2 linked regions of the Homo sapiens genome follow. The protein of the gene in region 2 purifies or fractionates together with the protein of the main gene of each other region. This does not show direct contact. Each region holds a gene or a part of one and is shown on either strand. Other genes may lie near its edges.

Evidence for each region.
Region 1: the proteins of ASB4 (region 2) and DNAJB5 purify together in Homo sapiens (affinity purification with mass spectrometry; 4 studies listed by BioGRID and IntAct, with this or other methods). This does not show direct contact.

The regions. Positions count from the first base shown.
Region 1 is NC_000009.12:34,992,565-34,996,479, reverse strand, and holds part of DNAJB5 (dnaJ homolog subfamily B member 5), read right to left. Parts: intron 3,281-3,915; coding exon 3,036-3,280; intron 216-3,035; coding exon 1-215.
Region 2 is NC_000007.14:95,530,754-95,534,668, reverse strand, and holds part of ASB4 (ankyrin repeat and SOCS box protein 4), read right to left. Parts: intron 1-3,915.

The sequences.
Region 1 (3,915 bases), on a different chromosome or scaffold from region 2:
GCCGAAAGCGCCAAATGGGTCCTCATCTTCATCCACATCCATGTCATCTGGGTCAAAGCCACTGAAGGGCCGAGTGGAGCGGCTGCTGGCAAAGAAGATATCGAAGGGGTTGGAGCCACCAAAGAAGGAGGCAAAGGTGGCATGGGGGTCCCCATGAAAGGTGTAGTGAAAGGAGCCACTGGAGCCACCTGATGTGCCACCGCCGGTCTTCAGGCCTAGAGGGGAGGAGAAGTTAGGGGCAGTGTGGCTTATTCTGGCCCCAATCCCAGTGTCTTCCCCCTGCCCTCTAGCTCCCAGTTCACAGGCTTAAAGAAAGAAGCAACCTTTAAATCCCACAGAGAGGGCCAGGCTAATAGAGTAAGAAAGGCTTCTGGCAAGATTATCTTCCATTCCTAATTATATATTTAATAACGATGCACAACTTGAGATTCAAAGAGGCTTGCTTACCCAATAGGTGGAAAAGCCAGGACTAGAGGACTTAGAGGATGTGACTTCCAGTCCTGTAATCTTTTCCACATACTCATGGTCCAAAGATGTCTCAAAAAGCCTTGAATGACTAGCCTGGTGTCACATTACAAGTGATACTTGGTTCCCAAATCTTTGCTTATCTCCAAAGACATATAGGACAAGGGGCCATCAGACAGGATGTGACCACAGAGGGGGCTGGTAAGTGAACAGTCGCAAATAGGCTAGGGATCCAACCCGGGAGGAAGACCACTTTCACTCTGCTTCTAGCAGTGTTTCCTCTTTCCCTGGCCCCTGCTCAAACGGGAAATCAGGAAGCCTTAAAAAGTGGGAAAGCTCATTAGCTTGGAGATGAAGAGCTATTTTTCTAGAAAAAGTTTTTAAATGCTTTGTTCCCACACTCTGCTCGGTGTTACACAACTTTAGGGAGTGTCATTCACACATTGTACAGACATAGACTACAATGGGAATGGAGCTCCCTGGAGTTATACAACAGCAAACGCCATACCCCACACCTAATGTTGAGCAACCAAAATGCATGAATGGGCTGGCACATGGCAGTGGTGACCTTAGCTGCTCTCTCTGTCAGGTCCTGTCTAAGGGGCTCAGATTCCTGGAGGCAGCCTTCATGCACAGGAGGGGGTGCTGGCAGTAGTGGGGGATGTGGGGAGACGGTTCACACTGAGAACTGCTCCGGAATACAGAGACTATGGGTGGGGTCCAGGCTAGGAAAGAGACCCTTCTCTTTGAGGCCATTTATCTAGAATTTCAACTGATCATGGAGATCTGAGCCTAAATTAGCCTCTTATTTCCTGGGACCACAAGGGCAGATTTGAGTTTCACTAGAGAGGCCAAGTGGCAGACGGTTCAGGGACTTGTGGCAGCTGCCTCTTCACCCCTCCCCCAAGACCTAGGATCTCTCCTTTCCTTCTATCGAGGGGCTGATTATCAAGCGAGTTCAAGCAGCCTGGCAGAGCTCAGTGAGAGAGGGAGGGAGGCTGGACTGATGATGATGGGAAGGGGTAATTCTCTCTATAGGGATTTCTATTCTTCCACTACCACCCCCTTTTCAAGCTGGGAGCAACTTGTCCCTAGCTGGAGCTGCACACAGAGTCTGTGTGTATAACTGCTCTATAATAAATGGCTGCTGGGGATTGGGCAGGGTGGACAGAAATATAACCAACATTTCTAAGCTGCTTCTCCCTCCCCAGGCCATGGAGGTCCCCTTAAGGCCATGCCGCATCCTCAGGGGCCTTCCTGGGATGGGGTTCTGCATCAGAACCTGGTGTCTGGACCCCTTCACTTAGGCAGAAGGGGTGAAGTATCTCAAGGGAGCTCTCCCAGCTCCTGCCTTCTTTCTAAACAAAGGTGAGGCTGAATGGAGGAATGGGTGCAATTCCAAGACAGGTCACATGGTGGCATGGTGTCTGCACTGCTTCCCTCTTTTCCACTCCTATCCCTCCCATCCCTCCATGCCAGAGAGAAAAATGTCTTAGCTGAAAGAATACTGGGGGTTCCAGCCGGTATCTGGTGAATCTGGGAGTTGGCACGTCTAGGAGGTAGGCAGGAAGAATGGAAGGAACCGGCAGCATGGAGAATAGGAAAAGGGAGTTGGGAGGATGAGGGTTCACAGAGGGGCATGGAACACAAGGCCAGGAGGAGGGGAAGAAAATAACCTTCTTATCTACATATGATTAGCCCATTTAGTTTTGAGGATAGAAAGGGGAGGGTGAAGAGGAGGAGAATGTGAAAGAAAGGTGGATTCTGTTGGGGAGGAAGGACAGTTCTTCCCAGGAAGGAGAGTCCTCAGCGTGACAATGTCTCTTAATATAGCCTGACAGGTGCCTGTGGCTGGCGGGTGGCAGGCAGCCCTGAGGGGCAGGCCCAGAATTAGCAGCTACATCATGGCCGTGGGATGTGCTGGGAGGGGCCTCCCTCTCAGAGGCTTTATTTGGGCCTTTCCTGCCTCCCACCCCATGGCCACCAGCTACCCCAGGGAAGGGGGAAGATGCCAGCAGCAGTTCCCCGTCCACCCTTGGATCCCTGCCACTTCCTCTGGGAGGCAAAGCTCCACCTCTGTTCTGCTGGCCAGAAGCAGGCAGGGCCGGGGGAGAGAAGGGGAAAACCATTTCTGCTCAGAGCTCTGGTAGTTAATTCCCAGGCTGCTTAAGGGCCAGACTTTTATGCTGATGAATGTAAATGCTCTGTCCTCAGAGAGCCACACACTCCCTCTCCCCAACCTTCCTCATCAGCCAATGAAGCAGCGGAGACTTCAGGCAGGACTAATAAGGCTGGGAAGGAAAGAAGGGCGGGGAAGGCCTCTGGCTCTTGCTTCAGACCTCTCTAAGGCCTGAACCCGAGGAGGGAGGGGGCAGAGAGAGGCGGGGAGAACTAGGGTGAGCTGAGCTGGGTAGTGGGTGGGCTTCTCTCTTCTCTGGGTGACAGTGCTGGAAACCCTTGCTGCCCTCACCCCCTCCACAGCCTCCAGTTCCCCGCTACACAAACTGGTGCACCTGGGACCCCTACCAAGCGGAGGGGTCCGGGATTGGGCTGGAGTGCTGCCCTCTTACCTTCCTCCCCATACTGGTCATACAGGCCCCGTTTCTTGGGGTCACTTAGCACATCATAGGCCTCTGCAATCTCCTTAAACTTCTCCTCAGCGTTGGGTTCTTTATTCTTGTCTGGGTGGTACTTCAAGGCCATCTTCCGGTAGGCTTTCTTGATCTCATCCTCGTTGGCCCCCGATGGGATCCCAAGAATCTTGTAATAATCTTTTCCCATCACAGCCACTGGACCAGCACTGGTCTCCTTGTTTCTGAAAGAAACCCAGGGCCAAGACTTGATGCCTTCTCTTCTGCCCCAGCCCTGTTCCTGATGATCTTGCAATCCCTAAATGACTCCCTGGGTAACCTTCAGCAGGTCATGCCTGTTCTGTGGGCCTGCGTCCCCCCATCTGTAAAATGAAAGGTTTGGACTAGATGATCTCTTCTGGCTCTGACATTCTAGAATTCTGTGATTCCGTCCTCACCTCCTGGGTTTTCCCAGCAGGAAGCTGAAGGTTGTGGCCCACTCTTGGGGCTAGGCTGAGGCCCTGGTCCTTGGGCCAGACTGAGGACCCCTGAGAGGCCCTGCTGAGCGAGGTGGCACCATGGACTGAGCGACCCACACACAGGAGCTGGCGAAGGTCAGTGTAACGGGTGAGGTCACCTGAGCATCGTGGTCTCCTACGCCACGCCTCAGGCATGGTGCCCAGGCTGAGGGCAGCTGGGGCAGTGGCCCAGGACCGGGAACAGGCCTGGGTCTTCCGCCAGCTGTCCTGGCCAGCCAGACTGAGTCAGGGAATGGGTGTCTGGAGTCCTGTCTGCCATCGGAGACCCCAGGCCTCCCCGCCCCCACCCCTCTGACGATGCTAAGCCTCACGTGTGACTCAGATCACAGGGTGACTCACAG
Region 2 (3,915 bases):
CAGGTGATCCTTGAGCACCATCAGCAACCCACAGAGGAGAAGACAAGTGCATCGAGGGCAGAGAGTGGAGGGGAGGCTAATGGGAAGTGCACCAACCGGCTCCCAGGCTGGTGTCAGGGCTAGTGCTGGGAAGGAGGGGTGGCTGAAGCTGGGAGAAGAAACAAGTATAGGGCTTAATACTAATCAGATAGGAGGAAGAAAGAATACAACTTGGAAGCCAGAGATAGAGGACAAACAAGAGTTGCCACTGATTGACAGAAATAAGGAACATACTAATCTGGGATGGACAGATAATGAGGAGGAGGATAGTTCATCTTTTTTTTTTTTAATGGAGTTTTACGTTTTTAGCCCAGGCTGGAGTGCAATGGTGCAATCTCAGCTCACTGCAACCTCCACCTCCTGGGTTCAAGCGATTCTCCTGCCTCACCTCCCAAGTAGCTGGGATTACAAATCATGCCACAACTCCTGACTAATTTTTGCATTTTTAGCAGAGACGAGGTTTCACCATGTTGGTAAGGCTGGTGTTGAATTTATGACCTCCAGTAATCCGCCCGCCTAGGCATCTGAAAGTGCTGGGATTACAGGTGTAAGCCACCGCGCCCAGCCATTCATGTCAGCAAAAAATGTACACAATAGATGCTCCCCATTAGAAAGCTAAGATGGAGTTATTATGTGTCATCAAAGTATGTGCTGGCAGAAGCCATGAAGTTCAGTGACAGTCTAAATGGGTATAAATGGAAAAGATAGAGGATCATTACCTACAGCTTCAGAAATCCTAATAGGCACGAGAGAGGAAGAAGGGAAAATAATAGCTACCATTTTTCGAGGACTTACTATGTGCAAGGGACTGTGTTAAATCTTCATATACTTTAACTTGCTCAGCCGTTGAACAATCCTATGAGGTTGGTCCTATATTCATCCCCATTTCAGAGATTTAAGACCAAAGGCTGAGAAAATTTAACCTCTGGGTCTTTTAGCTAGGAAATGGTAGAGTCAGGATTTAAACTCAAGTCTGCATGACTCCAAAGTCAAAAAAACACCAGACATGTCAGAGTGAAAGATACCAAATGAAGAAAGCATTCAAAGTGAGATTATCAAGGGGGTCATGAAGATCAAGAGATGAAGACAGATTAAATACCAGCAGATTGAATTAGAAGGTCAAGTCACTGGGAGTTGGGTGGACTGAAACAGGTAAGGAACAGATTGTGGGGGATAAATAAAGGATAAACGAAAAGTTGTAGCTAGGGCTGCCCTGTCCTCATCTTTAAGACCCTTGGTGTCACAGCACGAAGAGTGTTAGAAGCCCAATAAGTAATTTTCCCTTTTTAGTGTAGGACCTATTAAAAAATGAAATGAAGATGACAATCAGAGATCAGAATATCATCTTTACTACTGATAAAATAGATTACATATGTTTAGTTAGGGGGCCATACACAGCTTCTAACATTCTACCCCCAAACTGAATTTATACCCTAAAATTGCAGGCCTCTCCCTGGCAGACAGAGTTTATTACTGGAAGCCTGCCACATAAATGAACAAAGAATTCAAGGATCCTCTAGACCCAAGGTTGAGCAAGCTAAGTCAATTCCTCCTCCCAACTCATCAATCTGTTAAGTGAAGTGAGAAGGTTAGGGACAGAGATTAGTGGGAGTTTTATTTTAGCAGCATTTTCCTCATGAAAACATAAGACAAAGGAAACATGAGACAGCAGACTGATGTGGACCCCAAAGGGAGAAACCACAGCCTCCTTTTGACCTTGCCAGCCCAGAAAACAGAAGATGTTCAGTAAGCTCACCTTGATGAGTCTCTGGCATCTCTTATTCTCCCTTCATGGAGGAACAATTAGACAAAAAAGTTATTTCTACTGTGGTGACTACTGAAGAGAGATTTAGACACCTCATCTCACCATCCAACCCCCAAAAGCATGGATTAATACACAATCTCTTAAAAAAGAGATTCAAGGTAAGTCTTCCTGCCTCTCTTCTCATCCAAACATCATCTGTAAGCCACTTCAGCAGAAACATTCTCAAGCTACTTCCACTCTTTTATATTGATATATATGTGTTCAGAAAGGTACTTAATGATCAAAGAGAACTGCCTACCTTCATATACAGCATTGTTCAATGGCAGAAATCATCCTTACCTCTCCCAGACCCTCGTGTTACCTTTTCCTCCTCTAGAAAAATGTCTTTCTTGCCCTACAAGAAAACCCAATCTTGGCTCCCTGGGGTGTCACTTTCTTCTGAATTACGCTGGGAGAAAAAAAAATCAAATGTCCTTTTGTACCCTGGAAAGCAATTGCAGACCCTATAATTCTTTTTTCCCCCGCTTATGTAATTTACACATTGGCTTTCAGTGAAATACACCCTCTACAAATTGGCTTTGTATTTGGAAGAAAACATCTTCAGCTCTGACCTTGTTCCTTGTAAATAAGGAAACTGAATTCCCCATCCACACAAGAACGAATCACTTTATCTTCTGGATAAATGAGTCAGTCACTTACTTGTCGTAAAGATGACTTTCTCTTTGGAAAGTCGGGCTGTGGAGTAGTTGTTCTAAATCACTTTGAAGCATCTGCATAGTAAATTGAATAGTTTTTCTTTACTTTTCCTTTGGAGGGGGGCCAGCTCTCCTACACAGTCTGTTGAGTAGCAACAAAAATGTTTGTAATACCAGCCATCTACCAGTAGCCAACTCTATCCTAAATGTCTTTAGCATACAGCCAAACTAAAGGAACTCAAAGGAGCAAAACAACTGAATAAGAAAATGCTAACCATGGACAAAGTTGGTTGGAACACAAAATTGTATGCCTACTTTACAGGCTGGTGGAGCTACCAAGAAAAGCCAGCAGGGGAGATGCTTATGCTGGACCAAGAGCACATGTTGAGAGGAGGAGAAAAGTGAACACTAGGGTTGAATGCCACTACTAGATTCCACAGCAAGTTTCAGAATACAAGTCAACATTTAGTCTCTGGGCAGGGACTCACACACATACTGTCTCTCCTGGATGGGAAGACTGCTATAGTAAAGCAGGCCCAGGAGCACCAATTCTCCTGCTCAACACATGTTTAAGAATAGTAATAGTCATAGCCATCATTTGTTTAATGGTTACCATGCCCATGGCACCGTGCTAACCACTTCTCAAATGCTATCTCATTTAATTATCAAAACAGCCTTACAAGAAGGCTATTACTATTCATGGATAAAGTGATAGAGTATGTTTCTCTGGCACCTTCATGCCCTGTGTCCCTGTCCATCCTTTTCGCTGGAGGGAAAGTAGTCTTTGAACGACAATATGCAGAAAATTATGCTTTGTGAAGTGAGCTGTATTACAGAGGTAGATGTTTTTGTCTTCTAGAGCTAACGTCATGAAGAATGACCAGCCCTTAGCAAGATGTAGGTAAGAAAAAAAGATGGAAGTAAACAAAGAGAGAGATGTGTATAGATGTAGGATAGGACTGAAGGGAGGAACTGGGAAAGAGACTCTGCTGTGACTGAAAGAAGTCCAAGAGAAAGAGGAAAGAAATGTTTGGCACCATCCTCTGAGCTTTGAGCATATTTGTGATGTGCTATGAGTAGGAATAACTTCCTTCTGGGGAAGGACTGAGTCTGCATCGCATTGCCAAGGCATAAATTCAGGGTATACTCATTCAACAGGGGAAGAAACTGAGGCCCAGAAACTTTCAGCAGTTTATTTAATCACACTCTTAAGTAAGTGACAGAATCCAAGTTTGACCCCAAAGTCCATGATTCTCACCACCTTCACTATTCCACTGTGAATCTAAGTTACCCTCATCTCTCATCTAAATTATTGCAAATTTGCCAGCCCCCCACTCAGAGTTATTCTCTGAAAGGCAGTCAAAAGGACCATTTTAGAATATAAATCAGACTTTTATTTTTCTCAACTCAAAATCT